4 linked regions of the Homo sapiens genome follow. The protein of the gene in region 1 interacts with the protein of each later gene in a pairwise test. Each region holds a gene or a part of one and is shown in the gene's direction. Other genes may lie near its edges.

The links.
Region 2: the proteins of WASHC1 (region 1) and OSTF1 interact in a two-hybrid assay, tested with the Homo sapiens proteins (one large-scale study listed by BioGRID).
Region 3: the proteins of WASHC1 (region 1) and NUP62CL interact in a two-hybrid assay, tested with the Homo sapiens proteins (one large-scale study listed by BioGRID).
Region 4: the proteins of WASHC1 (region 1) and KRT28 interact in a two-hybrid assay, tested with the Homo sapiens proteins (one large-scale study listed by BioGRID).

Annotation. Positions count from the first base shown.
Region 1 is NC_000009.12:12,580-16,889, reverse strand, and holds the end of WASHC1 (WASH complex subunit 1), read left to right. Parts: intron 1-13; coding exon 14-172; intron 173-828; coding exon 829-981; intron 982-1,740; coding exon 1,741-1,809; intron 1,810-1,949; coding exon 1,950-2,083; 3' UTR 2,084-2,377; downstream 2,378-4,310. UniProt on the Homo sapiens protein: Acts as a component of the WASH core complex that functions as a nucleation-promoting factor (NPF) at the surface of endosomes, where it recruits and activates the Arp2/3 complex to induce actin polymerization, playing a key role in the fission of tubules that serve as transport intermediates during endosome sorting.
Region 2 is NC_000009.12:75,139,624-75,144,711, forward strand, and holds part of OSTF1 (osteoclast-stimulating factor 1), read left to right. Parts: intron 1-1,210; coding exon 1,211-1,309; intron 1,310-5,088.
Region 3 is NC_000023.11:107,122,208-107,127,302, reverse strand, and holds the end of NUP62CL (nucleoporin-62 C-terminal-like protein), read left to right. Parts: intron 1-2,970; coding exon of another isoform or gene 2,971-3,157; 3' UTR 3,158-3,876; downstream 3,877-5,095.
Region 4 is NC_000017.11:40,796,092-40,801,669, reverse strand, and holds the start of KRT28 (keratin, type I cytoskeletal 28), read left to right. Parts: upstream 1-1,710; 5' UTR 1,711-1,776; coding exon 1,777-2,226; intron 2,227-2,670; coding exon 2,671-2,753; intron 2,754-3,278; coding exon 3,279-3,435; intron 3,436-4,388; coding exon 4,389-4,550; intron 4,551-4,628; coding exon 4,629-4,754; intron 4,755-5,578. UniProt on the Homo sapiens protein: Essential for the proper assembly of types I and II keratin protein complexes and the formation of keratin intermediate filaments in the inner root sheath (irs).

The DNA of each region.
Region 1 (4,310 bases):
CTTTGTGTTTCAGACCTACAAGATGGGGTACTAACACCACCCCCACCGCCCCCACCACCACCCCCAGCTCCTGAGGTGCTGGCCAGTGCACCCCCACTCCCACCCTCAACCGCGGCCCCTGTAGGCCAAGGCGCCAGGCAGGACGACAGCAGCAGCAGCGCATCTCCTTCAGGTGGGAGCAGCTCTTTGAGGCCACCTGATTTCTGGCGTGCTCAGTGCACTCGGGTGGATTTTCTGTGGGTTTGTTAAGTGGTCAGAAATTCTCAATTTTTTGAATAGTTTCCATTTCAAATATCTTGTTCTACTTGGTTCATAAAATAGTGGCTTTCAAACTGTAGAGCTCTGGACTTCTCACTTCTAGGGCAGAGGGAGCCTGAACAAGTGAGGCTCTGGGTTCCTCATTCCTAATTAAACCAATGGAAAGAAGGGGTCTAATAACAAACTACAGCAACACATTTTTCATTTCAGCTTCACTGCTGTATCTCCCAGTGTAACCCTAGCATCCAGAAGTGGCACAAAACCCCTCTGCTGGCTCATGTGTGCAACTGAGACTGTCAGAGCATGGCTAGCTCAGGGGTCCAGCTCTGCAGGGTGAGGGCTAGAGAGGAAGCAGGGAGTATCTGCACACAGGATGCCCGCGCTCAGGTGGTTGCCGAAGTCAGTGCCCGGGCCCCACACAGTCTCCAAAGGTCCGGCCTCCCCAGCGCGGGGCTCCTCGTTTGAGGGGAGGTGACTTCCCTCCCAGCAGGCTCTTGGACACAGTAAGCTTCCCCAGCCCTGCCTGAGCAGCCTTTCCTCCTTGCCCTGTTCCCCACCTCCCGGCTCCAGTCCAGGGAGCTCCCAGGGAAGTGGTCGACCCCTCCGGTGGCTGGGCCACTCTGCTAGAGTCCATCCGCCAAGCTGGGGGCATCGGCAAGGCCAAGCTGCGCAGCATGAAGGAGCGAAAGCTGGAGAAGCAGCAGCAGAAGGAGCAGGAGCAAGGTGAGCGGGCCCTGGAGCCTGCGGTTGGAGGGCCTTGGGCAAGATCGCCTCCTCCCCTCCAGCCCTGAGTCCACCGGGTGCTTTCTGCCCACCCCCTGCTCCTGCCAGCTGGCCCCTGCTTCCCCTAGGGCACATGCTGGAAGCCCTGGGCCGCCACCAGAGGTCCTCAGCCCTCCTGCCTGGGCTATGGCTCCTTCCTGGTTTGGGAGCCATAGTGGAGCTTTCCTCTCTAAGCTCACCCAGCTCAAACTGTGACAGGAGAATCTTCTTCGACTGCCAAGAGCGGTCCAAGGCAATGGTCAGCCACTGCAGCCTCCTGAGATATTTTTAGAGACTGGACCTGAGGCCTCTGGAGGCTACTGATGATGCCTGCTGTGAACGCAGACACTGGTGTGATGCGATGCCTGCGCCTGCAGCGGCAGTGCCCTGGGCACTATGGTTTTGAGCTTGTACCCAGCGCTGCTTTTGCCTTGCTCTGTGACCCCAGGCAAGCTGCCTCACCTCTCTGGGCCAGTTTCCCCATCGTACAGTGGTGCTGCACACCCTGGCCCTGTCCCCGAGGTGGCTGGGAGGTGGCTCCTCAAACAGCCACTTTCTCATCAGTGCCCGGTGCTGGGTCAGGCATCGACTGAGGCTCTGAGCTAACTAGGAAACACAGTGGCCTTGGAGGGCTGGGGAGTGTCATGGGGGTGGGGACAGGGAGCCACCGGTCGCATGTGACTGAACTCTTCACCCCAGTCTGTGGCTTTCCCGTTGCAGTGAGAGCCACGAGCCAAGGTGGGCACTTGATGTCGGATCTCTTCAACAAGCTGGTCATGAGGCGCAAGGGTAGGAGGCAGGGCCGCTGCCCACCCTGGGCCGGCACATTGTAATTCTGTCCTGCCTTTTTCTTCCTGTATTTAAGTCTCCGGGGGCTGGGGGAACCAGGGTTTCCCACCAACCACCCTCACTCAGCCTTTTCCCTCCAGGCATCTCTGGGAAAGGACCTGGGGCTGGTGAGGGGCCCGGAGGAGCCTTTGTCCGCGTGTCAGACTCCATCCCTCCTTTGCCGCCACCGCAGCAGCCACAGGCAGAGGAGGACGAGGACGACTGGGAATCGTAGGGGGCTCCATGACACCTTCCCCCCCAGACCCAGACTTGGGCCGTTGCTCTGACATGGACACAGCCAGGACAAGCTGCTCAGACCTGCTTCCCTGGGAGGGGGTGACGGAACCAGCAGTGTGTGGAGACCAGCTTCAAGGAGCGGAAGGCTGGCTTGAGGCCACACAGCTGGGGCGGGGACTTGTCTGCCTGTACTTCATGGGGGGACGGCTCCACCCAGCCTGCGCCACTGTGTTCTTAAGAGGCTTCCAGAGAAAACGGCACACCAATCAATAAAGAACTGAGCAGAAACCAACAGTGTGCTTTTAATAAAGGATCTCTAGCTGTGCAGGATGCAAACGTCTCGGGGTCAGTGACTGCCTCCTGCCCCTGTTGGTCCCTAGGCAGTGGGGGCAGAAGCTCCCAGCTGACTTGTTTCTCTGGGATGAGAGGGAGGAGAGAAGGGCAGTCAGCAGGGGCAGCTGTTGCAGATGGGAGGAATAGTTTCCCACAAAAAAGGTTTCAGTGACAGACACAGGGTCTCTAAAAATAGTCATGCTGAGAGCCTAATGGCCCTTGGCACAATTGCTGGTGTTGGGGTAGAAGATGTCTTGGAGTTTGCTCAAGTGGTTGAGAGGGAGGGAGGTGCCATCGACTTGGAGGAACTGGCACCAAGCCAGGGAGATAGAAATCCAGGCAAGGCTGTGGGGCAGGTTAGGGAGCAAGGCTGCAGGAGTGACTCAGGAAGAAGGTGGGGGAGGTGACAAGCCCCCAGGCAGGGGCCCTGTGGCCATGGGGATCTTTTTAAATTGAGACTAGGGGGTGAATAGTCCAGGGCAGCTAACTTTAGTTATTATAGAAAGGGCAGTAGCAGATGGGTCTGCTCCGTCTCCCTTCTAAGAAGGTGGGCAGGACAAATGGCAGCCTCCTGCAGAGGCCCAGTGAGAAGCCTGGCCCTCGGCCACACAGGATGGAAGACAGATTGGATTCCACAGAGGGGAGCTGCCCTGGGAAGATCTCACGGATGGCCAGGACCCACCATTTCTTCGGGGTTCCCCTGTTTTCTCCAACGGGCACTAATGCCTGTGCCTGGGTCCTGGCAACACTCTGGACTCCACACTCTTCTGGGTTTCACCTTTGTAGCAGGATCCCTGCAGATCAGGCCCATGACAAACACCGTCTCCAGCGGGCAGAGCAAAGGAAGGGCGCAGCGCCAGGCAGTGGTGCAGCTGCCTGTCAGGAAGAGGCCTACTTCTGGTGAAACTGGGCAGACAAAAGGCAGTGAGAAATGTGATCTCGGGGTGGTGGAGGCTCTAGGGAAAGGAAAAGGCAGGAGTGAACTTCCACACAGCAGCAATGGCAGAACCAAAGGTGGCTTTGACCTCCACGAGGGCTCAGATCCAGGCCAACAGCTTGTCCAGGACAGGGTGCCGGGTGTATCACTAATCCAGGAGCACTATGCTGGCAGAATCCCTTTGGTGCCTGATGGCCCTGCCTTCGTGGGAACAGAGGCTAAGGCTTTGAGTTACAGCTGCCTCCCCAACAGTGCATCCCCTTCTCCTTCCTCAGCCTCAGGTAGGAGACAGGGCAGGCAACCCCCCTTTCCTCTTCTCCCCTTCTCCAGCCCCTGTCTGTCCACCCAGCTGGAGGCAGCCAGGCTTGCCTATGGACTGGTTGACAGCCTTCATGCACAGGTTCTCCACCAGAGCCTTTCTTGGGGGCCCCTGGCCTGGGCTCTGAGCTGGGAGTGAAGGGGATGACCCATGCGGACTGTTTGCTGCTTGTAGCTTTCCCTGGGAAAGACTCTGCCAGGCCTTGGAGCCAGACCAGGAGGCTTTATAGGCCACTGCAAGCAGCAGGGCTCCAGATGACATCACAGGGAATATCAAGAGGGAGTGGAGGGGCATCGAAGCCTCTCCAGGAGACAGGAGACGCCGGCCCAGTAGAGCCCTAGGGGCGACGCCACTCCCACTCACTGTCTACTCTCCTCTCACCTCTGCAACACTGGGGACACTCACAAGATTGTGATCCAAGTCGGCCGTCGTCTTCTGCAGCTCTGGAGACCTGATGCTGGGGAAGGGCATGCCTGGCATCACCACACACCTGGGGGGAGACAGGAGCCTGGGGCCGGTGGGCCCACACATCACCAGCTGCTCCGTTCTACCATTTCTTCAGCCCTCTTGGCTGTGCCTGCGGCTCTGCCCCTCCCCTCTCTGCACCTACCACCCAGAGAGGGCTTGTTGAGCTCA
Region 2 (5,088 bases), about 75 Mb from region 1:
TGTTGGTCAGGCTGGTCTTGAACTCCTGACCTCAAATGATCTGCCCGCCTTGGCCTCCTAAAGTGCCAGGATTACAGGCGTGAGCCACCGTGCTTGGCCTAAAGCCTTCTTGGAAAGCAATCTTAAAATCAGAGATGAAAAAGGAGGTATTACAACTGATACCACAGAAATTCAGAGGATCATTAGAGACTAGTATGAAAAGCAATCTGACAGTAGCTGTCAGAATTTAAAATGGACTTAGCCTGACTTTCCAATACCATTTTTAGTAAACCATTCTTCAGAAATACGTGTGAACAAAGATGTTGTTCAAGGATGTTCACTGGAGTATTTGTGATAATGAAAATTAGGAGTAGCCTAAGTGCCCGTCAATACAGGAGTAATTAAATTTTGGAGCACCACAAAATGGAATACTTAAATGGTTGAGTTACAAATATGTGTATTTGCTAAGAAAACAGTACCATTAGACATTAAAGTTTTAAAAACATGAAATCACAGACCAATACGTGTAGTACGATTTTGTGTCTATATCAATATGTGTATGAATGCACTGATGCAAATAAGGGAGATAAGAACTCACACCCACTTGTTAAGAATGGTTACCTTAGGCGTAGGTAGAAGATGAAGGAATGAAATGGGACTTGTGCTTTTGTTCAGCATACATTTGTATTTTTGAATCCTTAACAATGCAAATGTATTCATGAATTCTGATGTAATTTTGAACACAATAAAGGCAAAGGAAAAGTGGGTAGAAGATGGCTTATGGGAATAATGAATTGCCTCTTGGTTTTACGTGTTGCTATTCTGTTAATTTGCATGAGAGCAGACTTACAGATATAAAATATTAATCCCCTCAAGCACTATCCACTTGGTCTTTTCTAAAGACCCTCTTGAGCAAAAGAGGAAGCAAAGGGCTCATTGAAGTCAAGCCCCACAGGGACCATAAACTCCTCACTGAAAAGTTCACATGCAATTCTATAGGGACTCAAAAGGTTCGGAATTAATTGTTATCACAGGTGCAGCAACAAGCTTCCCGATTAAAGATGCCAAATTATACTGCATGAGAAAGTTTATTGTTTTGAGAACGTTTACTTCTGAGCCAGAGTTGTTCACTAGTTTATTTTGCCAAAAGTTGTTAGCTGTGGGGAGAGAGGATTGGCTACTACTATATAGTCTTCAAAGACACCTAATTGACTTTTCTTGTGTTGGGAAGGTGCTAGAACAGACTTAAGAAACATTGAGAAGAAGCTGGCCTTCGACATGGCTACCAATGCTGCCTGTGCATCTCTCCTGAAAAAGAAACAGGGAACAGGTATTTGTTTTAAATTCTTCTTTCTCCTCTGGTGCCCCATAACTAAGATTTATTAACTTAGAATGGCGCAAAAGAGATAAACTCAGCTGAGTGCAGTGGCTTATACCTGTAATCCCAGCACTTTGGGAGGCCAAGGCAGGAGGTTCACTTGAGCCCAGGAGTTGGAGACCAGCCTGAGCAATAAAGTGAGACCTCTGTCTCTACAAAAAGTACCAAAAATTAGTCAGACATTGTGGTGTGGGCCTGTAGTCCCAGCTACTCAGGAGGCTGAGCTGGGGGATCACTTGAGCCCTGGGAGGTTGAGGCTGCAGTGAGCTGTGATCGCACCACTGCATTCCAGCCTGGGTGAGAGCAAGACCATATCTCAAAAAAAGAAAACCAAAAAAAAAAAAAAAAAAAAAAAAAAAGATAAACTCTTCAGATGATTCTGAAGTTTGTTTCAATATCCTTGATCTTAATGAGAACCCCCAAAATAGGACACCCTCAATTAAACAGAAATTAGACAAGAAACATAATCTTTTACCTTTATTGTGTGTTTCTTTTATTCCTTGCAATTAAGTTCTAATCACCCTGCTTTCCATTACAGTCCTTTTCAGAGAACGATCATCTTCATTCCCTCATTTAAATATGTATTTATGAGTGATTACCACTAAATATTTTTAAAAATAACATTTAATAGCTCCATGATTATATTTTATTTCTGTTTTAAATGAGGATATCAGTAAACTGTAATCAAATTTATTCTAGACTTTGCTAAATCTTCTGGACTTTATTCATAGTATTATGGGTGGTTTTTTAAAATAGAGTTTAAATGTACATTATTATTATTTTTTTAGATGGAGTCTTACTCTGTTGCTCAGCCTGGAGTGCAGGTGTGCAATCATAGCTCACTGCAGCCTCAAACTCCTAGGCTCACGTGATCCTCCCATCTCAGCTTCCTGAGAAAATGGGACTACAGGCATGTGTCATCATGCCCAGCTAATTTTTTTTTTAATGTAGAGATAGGGGTCTTGCCATGTTGTCCAGGTTGGTCTCGAACTCATGGACTCAAGCCATCCTCCTGCCTCAGCCTCCCAAAGCACTGGGATTACAGGCGAGAGCCGCTGTGCCCAGCCTCCTTTTGTTCTTTATTCTAGATATGTCTTTGTTCCAGATTTCTTTTCTTTTTTTAACTTCAGTTTGAATATAGTGTAACTGCTAATCAGTTGGTATTCCTTAATTAATCCATGAGAGCTCACTGGGAGTGCAAGCCTTTCTTTAAAGTAATTCCTCATGGATAGATGGAGATGGGTTCTACTAAGGGAATGGGAAAGTATCAGCTGAGCTGGTGCTCCCCAGCTACATTATGATTGAGAAGCCATATTTGCAATAGTGTGAGAGACATACTTCTGCTTGAGTTCGACCTCCTACTCCTTGCTGCCTTGATTGGGTCAGGAAGTAGGAGTCTGGCCTAACTTCCTTTCTCTGCCACTGACTTCCTGTTGTGTGGCTACCCTTAGCCTGTCCTGACCGAAGAGTAAGGCTTCTTATGACCTGAAGGTATCAGAGTCTAATGCATGCTATGAGCTCCATTTTGATAGACAAGGCATATACCAAACTTTCTTAGACCTCAGAGAGCTTACCCAGAAGCCTTACTCAGGAGTGGTTTGAGTTGAGGGAGGCAGGTAATGAGCCTTTCTGCAGCCTTCGTAGAACAGGGCTGGGAGGCAGGTACTCTTTTCTCTGTGCACCCCAAGTGTGTTTAGTCTACCTTCCTGAATTTGAACTGATTAGGTAATAGATTCATTAATGAGGTAATCTTAGGGCCTGGCAGACAGAGCCAAGAAATGAGTTTTTATATTTCAATTTTCATGTTACTTTTAAAATGTTTTTTCTTGCTTCATTTCCCCAATTATACAGTTAATTTGTATTGTGATCCTCATTGGAATAGGTTTGGACTATTTGGCCATAGAGTTAATTGTCAGCATGAACTCTAAGTTGGAAAAGGTATATTCTGATATTGTTGTCCACTTTTTTTTTTTTTTTGAGACAGAGTCTCACTCTGTTGCCCAGGCTGGAGTGAAGTGACACAATCTCAGTTCACTGCAACCTCCGCCTCCCGGGCTCAAGTGATTCTCCTGCCTCAGCCTCCTGAGTAGCTGGGATTACAGGCATGAGCCACGATGCCCGGCTAATTTTTGTATTTTTATCAGAGATGGGGTTTCACCTTTTTTGTCCAGGCTGGTCTCGAACTCCTGACCTCAAGCGATCTGCCTGCCTTGGCCTCCCAAGGTAGTTGTTGTCTACTTTTAGAAGCACAATGTGGATTTTTTAATAAGTACAAAAATTCACATTTTGCAGTTACTATGGAAGATAACTAGGATATAGGGCTGGGGGTTATACTCGAGTTGAGCCCTTTAACATTTTTTTCCAACTTTTAAAAATTTGTGTATAATTTACATTAAGTAAGTACATAAATCTTAAGCATACAGCTTGATTAATTTTTTTTACACCTGTTCACCACAACCCAGATGAAGCTAGAGAACAGTTCCCACACGCCACATGCCTCCCTCAGTGTCTTCTGCTTCTCTCACCATAGATTAGTTCTGCCCGTTCGTGAACTTTATGTAAATGGAATCAAACAGTATGTACTTTTTGTGACTGACCTCTTTCATTTACATTATGTCTGTGAGAGTCATCCATATGCCTGTGTTTATTTCTCCATCATTTATTTATTGTTTGTATGTTTGTTGGTTGGTTTTAAGTGCTGGTTCTTGATTTGAGATATGTAAAGCCAGGGTGATGGGACTGAGGTAAAATGAACGTGAGCTAGGGAAGGATGGCAGTGCTGCAGGAAGATACATTCCTATGCGTGCTATGCCCAGAGGTGGGCTGTGAAGAGATACAGGCTCATCACACAACACCTGACCATGTGGGAAAACTGCCTCAGAACAGTTCATGAAAGGAAAGAAGGAGAAGGAATTTATTTGCTGACTTGTGCCTGTCTTTTGATGACCACTCAGTCAGAGTCTGCACTGTGGCAAATCATCCTCTCTTTTTAATAGAAGTAAGAATAAAATAAAGAGCAGAAGTAACCATCCAAGGACACAGAATATGGGCAAAACTTAGGATAGTGGAGTAGAAGGGGACAGAGTTTTCCTATTTGTCTCTCAGGCTTTAGCTTAGAAAGCTACATTTTACCAAGTTGACATGAAGTCCTGAAGGTCCTGGGTGTGTGTTGGGGGAGAACAAAATATATTCCTCCCACTTCTTGTGAACTCCTCTTGAGGAGAGTGGAGAAGAATAGAGTCAACCTGGAGACTTCCAGTAGCTTGAAGGCTGGTGTGAAGTCAGTGAAACATGGCCAGGTGTGGCGGCTCACACCTGTAATCCCAGCACTTTGGGAGGCAGGGAGGATTGCTTGCATCTGGGAGTTCAAGACTAGCCTGGACAACATAGTGAGATGACGTCTTTACAAAAAAAATTAAAAACTAGCTGAGTGTGGTGCTGCATGCCTGTAGTCTTAGCTACTTGGGAGGCTGAGGTGGGAGGATCACTTGAGTCCAGAAAGTCAAGGCTGCAGTGAGCCATGATTGTACCACTGCACTGCAGCCTGGGTGACAGAATGAGATCCAGAAAAGAGACTTGGCCTCTGTTCTGCTTTATCTTTCCTTCTCTCTCTTGCAAGATAAATCGGCTTCCACCTCCCTTGTACTGATCATCCCTTCTTCTTTTCTTTTTCTCAATAATCATTTTCCAAAACATGTAAACATGAAAACTTTTTTTTTTAAAAGAGCATT
Region 3 (5,095 bases), on another chromosome or scaffold:
TCTATCCCAAACCCCATGCAACCACTAATCTACTTTCTGTCTTTATAGATTTGCCTTTTCTGGAGAGTTTATGTAGATTGAATCATATTATATGTGGCCTTTTGTGTCTGGTTTCTTTCATTTAGCATAATATTTTCAAGGTTCATCTATGTTGTAACATGTATCAGTACTTAATTCCTGTTATTGCTGTGTATCATTTCATTGTACAGTCATACCATATTTTGTTTATCCATTCATCAGTTGATGGACATTTCTTGGTTTTTTTTTTTTGAGACAGAGTTTCTCTCGTCACCCAGACTGGAGTGCAATGGCACAATCTCAGCTCACTGCAACCTCCACCTCCTGGGTTCAAGCGATTCTCCTGCCTCAGCCTCTTGAGTAGCTGGGATTACAGGCTCCTGCCACCACACCTGGCTAATTTTTGTATTTTTAGTAGATACAGGGTTTCACAAGGTTGGCCAGGCTGGTCTCGAACTCCTGACCTCAGGTGATCCTCTTGCCTCGGCCCCCCAAAGTGCTGGGATTACAGGCATGAGGCACAGCACCCAGCCTCTTGTTGTTTTTTAAAATATAGTTTTAGCACTTACATTTAGATTGATAATCCATCTTGAGTTGATTTTTGTATATAGTTAAAGGTGGGGGTTTGATTTCATTTGGATGTAGATATCCAGTTGTCCCAGAGCCATTTGTTGAAAAAGATTATGATTTCTACCATTGAATTGCCTTGGTACCTTATAAGGTTTTATTTCTGGACTTTGTTTCTGTTTCATTGATCTCTATGGCTATTATTGCCCATATCATGCTGTCTTGATTACTTGATTAAGTTTTAAAATTAGATAGTGTTAAATCCTACAGTTTGTTCTTATTTTTCAAGATTGTTTTTTTCTGGATCCTTTGCCTCTCCATATACATTTAAATTAAGCTTGTCTATTTCTATAAAAAGAGCCTGCTAGAATTTTCATAGGGATTACATTGAATCTGTAGATCAACTTGTGGAGAATTGCCATCTTAACAATAGTGAGTCTTTTAATCCATGAACATGGAATATATCTCCACTTATTTAGATATTCTTTAGTTTTTCTTAGCAATGTTTTTTTGTTGTCAGTGTACAGGTCTTATACTTCATTTGTTAAGTTTATTCCTAAGTATTATAATTCTTTTTGATGCTATTGTGAATGAAATTGTTTTCTTATTTTCATATTGTTTAGAACAATTATTTTTTAATAATGTCAATATGTGTATGCCATATTTAATATGCTGGCAGGAACCAGTCAATCACTGATGCTTGTCATGGGACCAAAATTCTGGGCATTAAGTACCTAGGTGCAGTTTTTGCCCTTAAAGAATGAAAGTCCTAAAAAATTTAAAGTATGTTAATACAGAAATAGTCCTGGGAATTCAATTAGAAGACATGACAAAATGCTAATAGTAAGGCTTTCTTAAGAATGCTGACTTGTATTTCTTGACAGTTTATTGATTTTTAAAATCATTATAAATGTACCCCTTTGCATTTAATATGTATCAATCAGCAAATTACTAGAATGTGCCTATGTTGACACTTCTGATCTCAAGTTAATGGTTTGTTGTAGTGCTCATCTGTGCTTCCATCATATTAAAAACTGTTATTTAGGTGAAAAAATTGCACCCCGCAGTTAGTTATTACAACAAAAAGGAGATATAGTTTGCCAGGTTGAACATAATGTTTTTCTGGCCTTTTATAGACAGCCAGCATTGAAATCACTGTCCTTAAAGCATGATCTTGCAGAATGTCTTTATAAGATAAAATGAGGTATTACACTTTAAAAACTGGGTAACATTAGGGTTTTTCTGATTGGGTGAAGAAAATTAAAGTATATTACAGCTGGCCCTTCAACAATGAAGGGTTTAGGGGTGCTAATCCCTACACAGTAAAAAACCAAATATAACTTTCGACTCCCCAAAACTTAACTACTAATAGCCTACTGTTGATGGAAGCCTTACCACTAACATAGTCAATTAACACGTATTTTGCATGTTATATGTATTATTATATACTGTATTCTTATGATAAAGTAAGCTAGAGAAAAAGAAAATGTTGTTAAGAAAATCATAAGGAAGAAAAGAAACATTTACCAGTTATTAAGTGGAATTGGATCATCATAAAGTTCTTCATTCTCTTCATCTTCATGTTGAACAGGGTGAGGAGGAAGAGGAGAGGGTGGTCTTGTCTCAAGTGTGGCAGAAGTGGAAGAAAATTCACGTATAGTGAACTTGCGCAGTTTAAACCTATGTTTTCCAAGAGTCAACTGTATATCGTTTAAATTTTTTAGTGTTTCTCTTGTAAATTGTTTTTCTTCTTGGGCACCAGTTATGGCTTATTCATGAGTAACCATTAATGAACACTAAAAGAAATGACAAAGTTTATTTGTGCATGTTAATAGAAAAACTCAGAGTATCATGCTTACTTCAACAGCTTAGTTTTACTAGCAGAAAGTTACTGTTTCATATGATAAAATTAATGGTATTCTGTGGTACTCTGCCCCTGAGAAAATTTAAGAACCACCAAGTTAAATAAATCATTATTGGAAAAGAACAGAAATGTAAATATACTCAGTGCGCTCATTTGCTTATAGGTAGCTAAGACCCACCAAAACCTATACTCCCAATTTAATGACTACCCTGTATGTCACTTTTAGGGTATAATGAGTCAAAAAGCAGTTAACACCTCATCCTAACAAAACATAAATGTCAACTAGACAGTTATTTGCCTGAAAGCTAGGGAGAGCAGAAAAAAAAAAAAGTCTTGTCCATTGTTTGCACAGTTTCCAAACAGATAGATGAGTGTTTTTTTCTTATGTGTTTTCTAAAACGTAAAGCTATTGAAATTGCTATGTAAAATTTTGTTAATCATGTGTTGAAAGGAATACGTAAATTATGTTCATGGGATATTTTGGCCTTAGATTAATGATTGTGTGACTTTTTCTCCTATAGGCATGCTGCGAAGGAAGGTAGAAGTGGTAACACGGGTTTTCGAGGATTATCGTCACGAGGAGCATGCACACAATGTCAACACTGCTTTTTAGTGAATGACCATATCTTCAGCATGTCGTTTCTGGATTATTACCTACAAATTCTGATGTTAAATAGAGTAGTATTTATACTTAATATTTCATCTTGATCATAATGAATTGTGCATCCTTTTTTTCATTTAAGTATTGTACTGTTGAGAATTATACCTTAGTTTTGTTTTTAGTATTAGAAAATCAAAATTATACTAGCCCCTTTGTCCAGACAGCAACCTCTTAGATGCTGACTCTATATGTGTAATTTATGTCTTACTCTCCCTGGCATCAGTACACATCATCCTTCTCACTCCAGTTGAATCATAGGGTGATGTCTGCCAAAAGTACATGCCAACCTATATAGTGCTAGATACTGTAAAGTCTCTTCTCCTCAAAGGAACCTACTGTCTAGTTTGAGATATAATTAATGCTTGTCTGCATAAAAACAATATAGATAATATAAAGAAGTGCAGTATGAATTATAGAAAGTGTGTTATAGAGATTCAGAGCAGGGAGGAAAAGTTAGGGTAGATTATTATTAAAGGGTTAAGGAAAGGTAAGTTTCAAGGAATTTGGTTATTTTTAATGTATGGATATACTGGCATTTTATTTGGTTTTAGCATATGATTTATAGTTGGTGATTTCCGTATATTTGTTTGTTTTTCTTTTTTTTTGTTTGTTTGTTTTGTTTTGTTTTAAATAAGCCTTGTTCTTAGGTTTGGAACAGTCTGGTCTCCTGTGTTTCATGTTTCACCTAAGTCATAAATAAAGGTAATGTCCTAAAAAAAAACATGTAATACTGAAATTAACTATTAAAAGTTTTTAAGTGACTAGAGCTCAGTAACCTATAATTTATTGAGCTAAATTTTCTGTTGTACTGATTGCACACGACCATCGTGGCGGGTACACATTACACGAAGAAATATTTTTGAAATGAATATTAGCAACGATTAGTCTTATGAGCAGACTAAATGCCAAAATTGACATGGACTCTTTTTTTTCTACTCAAACTTTTCCAAGCAGCAGCTTCTTATCCAGTAAGTTTTTGTAACCACGCAGAATTATAGAATGTGAAAATAATCCAGAACTCATATAATCTTGTGAATTATTTCTGTAGATACACAACTTTTAAGTATAATCTTTAGTAATCTCTAATTTTTCAGTTCAGTATTATTACTCTTATACTGTAGATAAGAGTAATACTAAAGACATTTTTTCCCATTGCTTTTGGAGATTCAACTCTTGTAAAGTAGCCTGTGTACAAGTTCTACATTCAGTAATGAAAATATAGTTTATCAGAAGAAACACTGACTCTAGTCTTGTTCCTGCCTAATTAACTGGACAAATAATTTCATCTTGGGCATTATCTTTGTCCATAAATGAAAGAGTTGGATCATATTAGGGTTTCCCAAACTGTTTTGTGAGAAGGAACTGGTTTTCATTTCTCTGAAGTTTTGAGATTCCTTTATGTCTTTTCACTGTGAGTAGAGTGCTTACTCTATATTTCCTAAGTAAAATAAAGAAAAAGGAGACTACAATACTGCTTATACTATCTTACTGTTACATTATCTTCAGTGGGAGTTCTAGTGTTTTTCCTAGTACATAGAAGATGCCAGAGGATAGCAACTGGCTTCTAGATTGATCTAGTAATGTTATTAAGACTTACAGGGTGATCTCAGTATACTGTCTGGAATTGTACATTGGACTAAATCATAAATCATCTCTAAGATTCTTCCTGACCATTTCTAACATGTAAAGAAATGACATTGTTGAACAATTTTTTTTTGTTTGTTTTTTGAGACAGGGTCTTGCTCTGTCACCTAAGCTAGAGTGCAGTGCCGTGATCTTGGCTCACTGCAACCCCTGCCTGCTGGGCTGAAGTGATTCTCCTACCTCAGCCTCCCAAGTAGTTGGGACTACAGGTGCACACCACCACACCTAGCTAATTTTTGAGTTTTTTGTAGAGATGGGGTTTTGCCATGTTACCCAGGCTGGTCTTGAACTCCTGGGCTCAAAGGACCCACCCGCCTTGGCCTCCCAAAGTGCCAGGATCA
Region 4 (5,578 bases), on another chromosome or scaffold:
TTGACAATGGCTCACAGCCCACTTCCCTCCTGTCTCCTGCCATCATGAGAAACTTCACGCCTTTATAGATGGTACATTTAATGTCACAGACAGATAGTTCCTGACCTCCTACTCTCTTGCCTTTCAGGTCCAATCCACTTCTGACTTCTTGTTCCAGTGACTGTTGGTCCACTCCCATGACTACTCTGTGGACTTTGGTGACACCTGGAGTTGTGCCTACTTTAAAATTCTAAATTCTGGTTTCCACTATCCAATTTTAGCCTGTCATCCTTCACCTTTATCAATCTCCTCCTCACACTCCGCCTGCTCCATGACCTCATAAGGATACCCAATGACTCACCCTCTGCCCTTTTCTTCAGTCCATCTGTCCCTCTGGTTTTACTTTCTTCTTGCTATATGATCATACAGTCAATCGCCTCAATTGTTTTCTCAAGAACACCAGAAATTTCTTTGCCACTATTTCCTTCTTCTGGACCTGTCTTCAAATCCCAAAACCCACATCAATCTGATCATCATCCTTTCTATTCCTGCACCAGGATTACTTCCAAATATGCAGTTGAACATCATTATAAATGAGAGCTGGACCCTCCAATTTTCTTTTACTCATTGCTAGTCAAGTATTTTTCCAGTTCAGTATACATATTCTAAACAGTCATTCTTGCTATCAGTCACCTTCATCTGGAACATTCTGGCAACCCCTCAAATCCAGTTGGTCCAAACCTAAACTCAGTGTCTTCCTCCTCCTCTATTCCCCATCTCAGTGAATATTATGAGTTCCCAGAATCTAAAATTAATTACCTAAGAGTTATCCCCAATTCTGCCTTATTCCCTACTCTCCAAATTCAATCATATTACCATATGCTCTCAAAGCCATCTTCTCTGCATCCCCACTGCCTTCATCCTTCTCACCTGGACCATTATTCCAACCTTGTAATTGACCACCTTGTTTCATTTCAACCTGATCATTTTGCCCTCTGCTTTTTACTTAGGATTCATTACAAACTCTTTAGACCAGCACAGAAAGCTAACCATGATCCAGCCCCTGTCTGGACCTGACAATAGATTTCTTAAAGATTGTAATCACGCATTTTTCACTTCTGCATTTAGTTAACACTATGTCTTTCATTTTAGCACTTAGCATAGAGCACCAAACATCATAACCATGCTATTTTAAACAAAATAATAGGTCAATATTTGTGTCATTGTCCAAGATAATAAATAGATGTTATAATCATGGTAAGAACAGAGATGTCACTAGCCTCTGTTTTCTAAATAACACATTTTTTTCTGGTGGGATAAAATATCTGTTTCTGTAATTAGCAGTCCTTTATACCCCTCCATGGTAATTGAGACCCTACTGTACCTCACAGAACTCTATCATAATCTTACTTAACTTTATAAAAAATTTGATAATACCTGGCGCCAGATAATGACAGTATATGCCTAGGGTCTAGATGAAAGGAAAGGATTACTCACTCAAAATTAGAAGTTAAATTAATAAACTTAATATAGAACAAACCCTATTATATTTAAGATAAGAAATAGCCCAAAGCAACACCGAGGGATGTTAGACATTAATTATTTTTAAAATCACCCAATTATACATAATTTTATGCTAATCTAAGTGATGCCATTTTGCTTTTGGCATGTATAACTCAAATAGGAACGCCCCAATAATGATATATAAAAACCCAAAGAAATTATCAGTGCATGATATTCTGTTCTCTTGGGACATTACAGTTTTGCATAGACAAGGTGAACATTTCTCAAAACACCATGTCTCTCCAATTTTCTAATGGATCCAGGCATGTTTGCTTAAGGTCTGGAGCTGGATCTGTCAGACCCCTCAATGGAGGTGCAGGCTTTGCAGGCAGCAGTGCATGTGGTGGCTCTGTTGCTGGAAGTGAATTTTCCTGTGCCTTGGGAGGGGGCTTGGGCAGTGTTCCTGGTGGGAGCCATGCTGGTGGTGCCCTTGGAAATGCTGCTTGTATTGGCTTTGCTGGAAGCGAAGGGGGACTCCTCTCTGGAAATGAGAAGGTGACCATGCAAAATCTTAATGACCGCTTGGCATCCTACCTGGATAATGTGCGAGCTCTGGAGGAGGCAAATGCTGAATTAGAGAGAAAAATCAAGGGTTGGTATGAAAAATACGGACCTGGATCTTGCCGTGGACTTGATCATGACTATAGCAGATATCACCTAACAATTGAGGATCTTAAGAATAAGGTGAGAAATCACAGATTTGGAACTAACCCAAGTATTTAAAACTAAGAAATACCTAACAAAAGACATACAATAAGAAATGCTTCATGACTGTTATAACTTGTATTTATTTATTTAGATAAACAATTCTTCCTACTATTCAAAAATGGGCCCTTTGATTCATGAATTTTAATGTAGTTAAAATGTTATTAGTTCCATTGTTTATGTTGAAGTACATTCATAGGCATATGAATAAAAAAGTATTGTAGTTCTAAATTTAGGGGAATATATGAGAATAAATAAAACCATGTCTTTAATTTTTAAAAGTTAAACTTGAAACATTTTGATTATTACATAAGGAGGTGAAATTTTTATGCAAAAACTTGAGTAACCTTTTTCATTTCCTGAAATAATGAATCACATAAAAGCATACTTACTTGTTGTGTTCTCTGTTTTGGTTTATTCTAGATTATCTCCTCCACTACTACTAATGCTAATGTCATTCTGCAGATTGATAATGCCAGACTGGCTGCTGATGATTTCAGGCTAAAGTAAGTGACAGAAGAAAATCCTGCTCTAGAAAAAAGTTTCTATTTATTTAATTTGTTAAATAAAATTTCTATTTCATCCCAAGTAGAATGAACTATCACCTAAAAGATAAAAGGAAGCAAAGGATTTGTATTATAATGTTACAATCAACTTATACATAGTTATTATATTCCTGGGACAAAATATCAATATATTTCTCTGCCTGCCTAGAATACTGCCAAGCACAAAGTAGATGCTCAGTAAATCATTAGTCAACTAAGGAAAAACGTTAACTAAAATAAAATTCCAAAATGGTGTATTTTTATTTAACTAGGTTATGCTATTGGAATTTGTGTGATGAAATAACTTCCAATTATCCTGTACAGAATTGAGTGGGGGTAATGCAGGAGCGCTTTCTTCATATATTTTTATACTATTTACAGTCCTAATTCAATTTCTAATTTTCAGTTTAAAGCAATTGGGATTGAATATTTCTGTTTCTTGGGGTAGTCTTACTGGCACTGAAATTCACTTAAATGCCCCCCAAGGTATGAAAATGAGCTCACCCTTCACCAAAACGTAGAGGCCGACATCAACGGATTACGGCGAGTCCTGGACGAGCTGACGCTCTGCAGGACCGACCAGGAGCTGCAATATGAGTCTCTGAGTGAGGAGATGACATATCTCAAAAAGAACCACGAAGAGGTAGGAGAAGCTTTACCTGTAGTCCAATCACAACTCTGTACATTTTAAATACTGGGCAGGGGTTGGGGGTTAAAATCACAATAGTAATTCAGGTTCATTGTTATAATTTGCCAACGGATACAGACAGATTAGTCTAATAATACTACCTACTACGAGGGGATGTTAAAAGGCTTCAATGAATTAATACATATCACACGCTCAGAACAGTGCCTGGCCTATAATAATCACTCAATAAATGACAGCGGTCATCCCTAGGATGAATGCCTATGAGGGCCAGGATTTCAGGATTTTTTCTACTGTTCTATTCCCATCAACCTGACATTTAGTCAGTAACTATATGTTGAGTAACTCTCCGGTCTTTAAATCCCTTTCTCATTTAAAAGAATAAATTACTTCTCTTGGGGTGCTATGACTGTTTTTGGTGGTGGTGGTAATTTTAATTAACAGGTCCCTAATTTTTTTTGTTTGTTTTCTATTGCTTTGTTTTGAGACAGAGTCTCGCTCTGTGGCCAGGCTGGAGTGCAGTGGCGCAATCTCAGCTCACTGCAACCTCCACCTCCCAGGTTCAAGCAATTCTCCTGCCTCAGCCTCTGGAGTAGCTGGGACTACAGGCGCACACCACCAAGCCTGGCTAATTTTTGTATTTTTAGTAGAGATGGGTTTTCGCCATGTTGGCCAGGCTGGTCTGGAACTCTTGGCTTCAAGTGATCCGCCCGCCTCAGCCTCCCAAAGTGCTGGGATTACAGGAGTGAGCCACCTCGCCCGGTCAACAGTTCACTAATTAAATAGATGATTGGCATGAATATGGACCGAATATGTCAATTAAAAAATTGTGTGCCATAAATTATACACCTGACCGCAAACTTTGAGACATAAAGTAACACGTTTGAGAACTTCTCAGACTGAGTGTGAACCTGCAATGCCCCTAAAGCCACACTCTTGCTTCTCTCCAGGAGATGAAGGCTCTGCAGTGCGCGGCTGGGGGCAACGTGAACGTGGAGATGAACGCGGCCCCGGGGGTAGACCTCGCGGTTTTGTTGAACAACATGCGAGCGGAGTACGAAGCCCTTGCAGAGCAGAACCGCAAGGACGCGGAGGCCTGGTTCAATGAGAAGGTGAGGTGGGCCCCGTCTCCCTGCTCACACCTCCCCGGGGGTGGGGACTCCGTGTGACCCTTTTTCCCGGCCCTACAGAGCGCCTCGCTGCAGCAACAGATCTCCCACGACTCAGGCGCAGCCACTTTCGCCCGGAGCCAGCTCACCGAGATGAGGCGCACCCTGCAGACCCTGGAGATCCAGCTGCAGTCCCTGATGGCCACGGTAGGTGACAGCGAAGGTCAGCCTGGATCCTGTGATTCTAGAAAGCCTCCGAGAAACACTTCCCTCTGCCCTTCCTTCTTTTTTCCTATTATACCTTTGCCTGCAAATACTTAGCAGAGAGAGTGGAGGAGAGCAGGAAAAAACAGATGCATAGACACTCAAAAGAGAGCTTTTTCTTCCTCCTTGACATCACTGGGAGTTTCCTTCCTGGCTGATGCTTAGTGCTCATTTCATGAAAATAGACATTTCACATAGATCCTTTCTCAGGGTAATTCAGCTTAGGTCCGCAAAACAAACAGCAGCAATATTGCTGCACCAGAAAATTAGCCACAGGTCTATGATCAGGGGTGTGGGGCTAGTGTCCCACAGGGCAGGGAGCCAGCATCACACCAGCATCTCCTGATACTGATGAAGACATATTAGAAGCCACATGTGGTTTCACCAGGCAGAGGAAGAGAGGGTACACACCTGAATGCCACATGGGCACTGTCAGGCTCTTCATCGCCACAGAGTCCAGGGCAGAGGTCAAATCCCGGAGGGCACACCTGGGAGCCAGGCCTTCAGCCACTTGGGCATACCACCAGCTCCTGGCTTACTTCAAAGGTCAGCATGGCGTCAACCCAGGATTAAAAATGGCTTCCCTTCTAGAGTGTGAGCTGGCAGTGCCCAAAAGGCTTGACTTTGAGAATTACGGCATGCACATGGCCTAAGGACTCCCTTCCCCATAAGAGGTTTCGTGCCTCCTGAGGACACCAGGTTGTAACACAAAGAAGAGAGCAGCTGTTACCCAAGTGAGTGCAGTGAGCCAAAAAGGAAAAGATGAC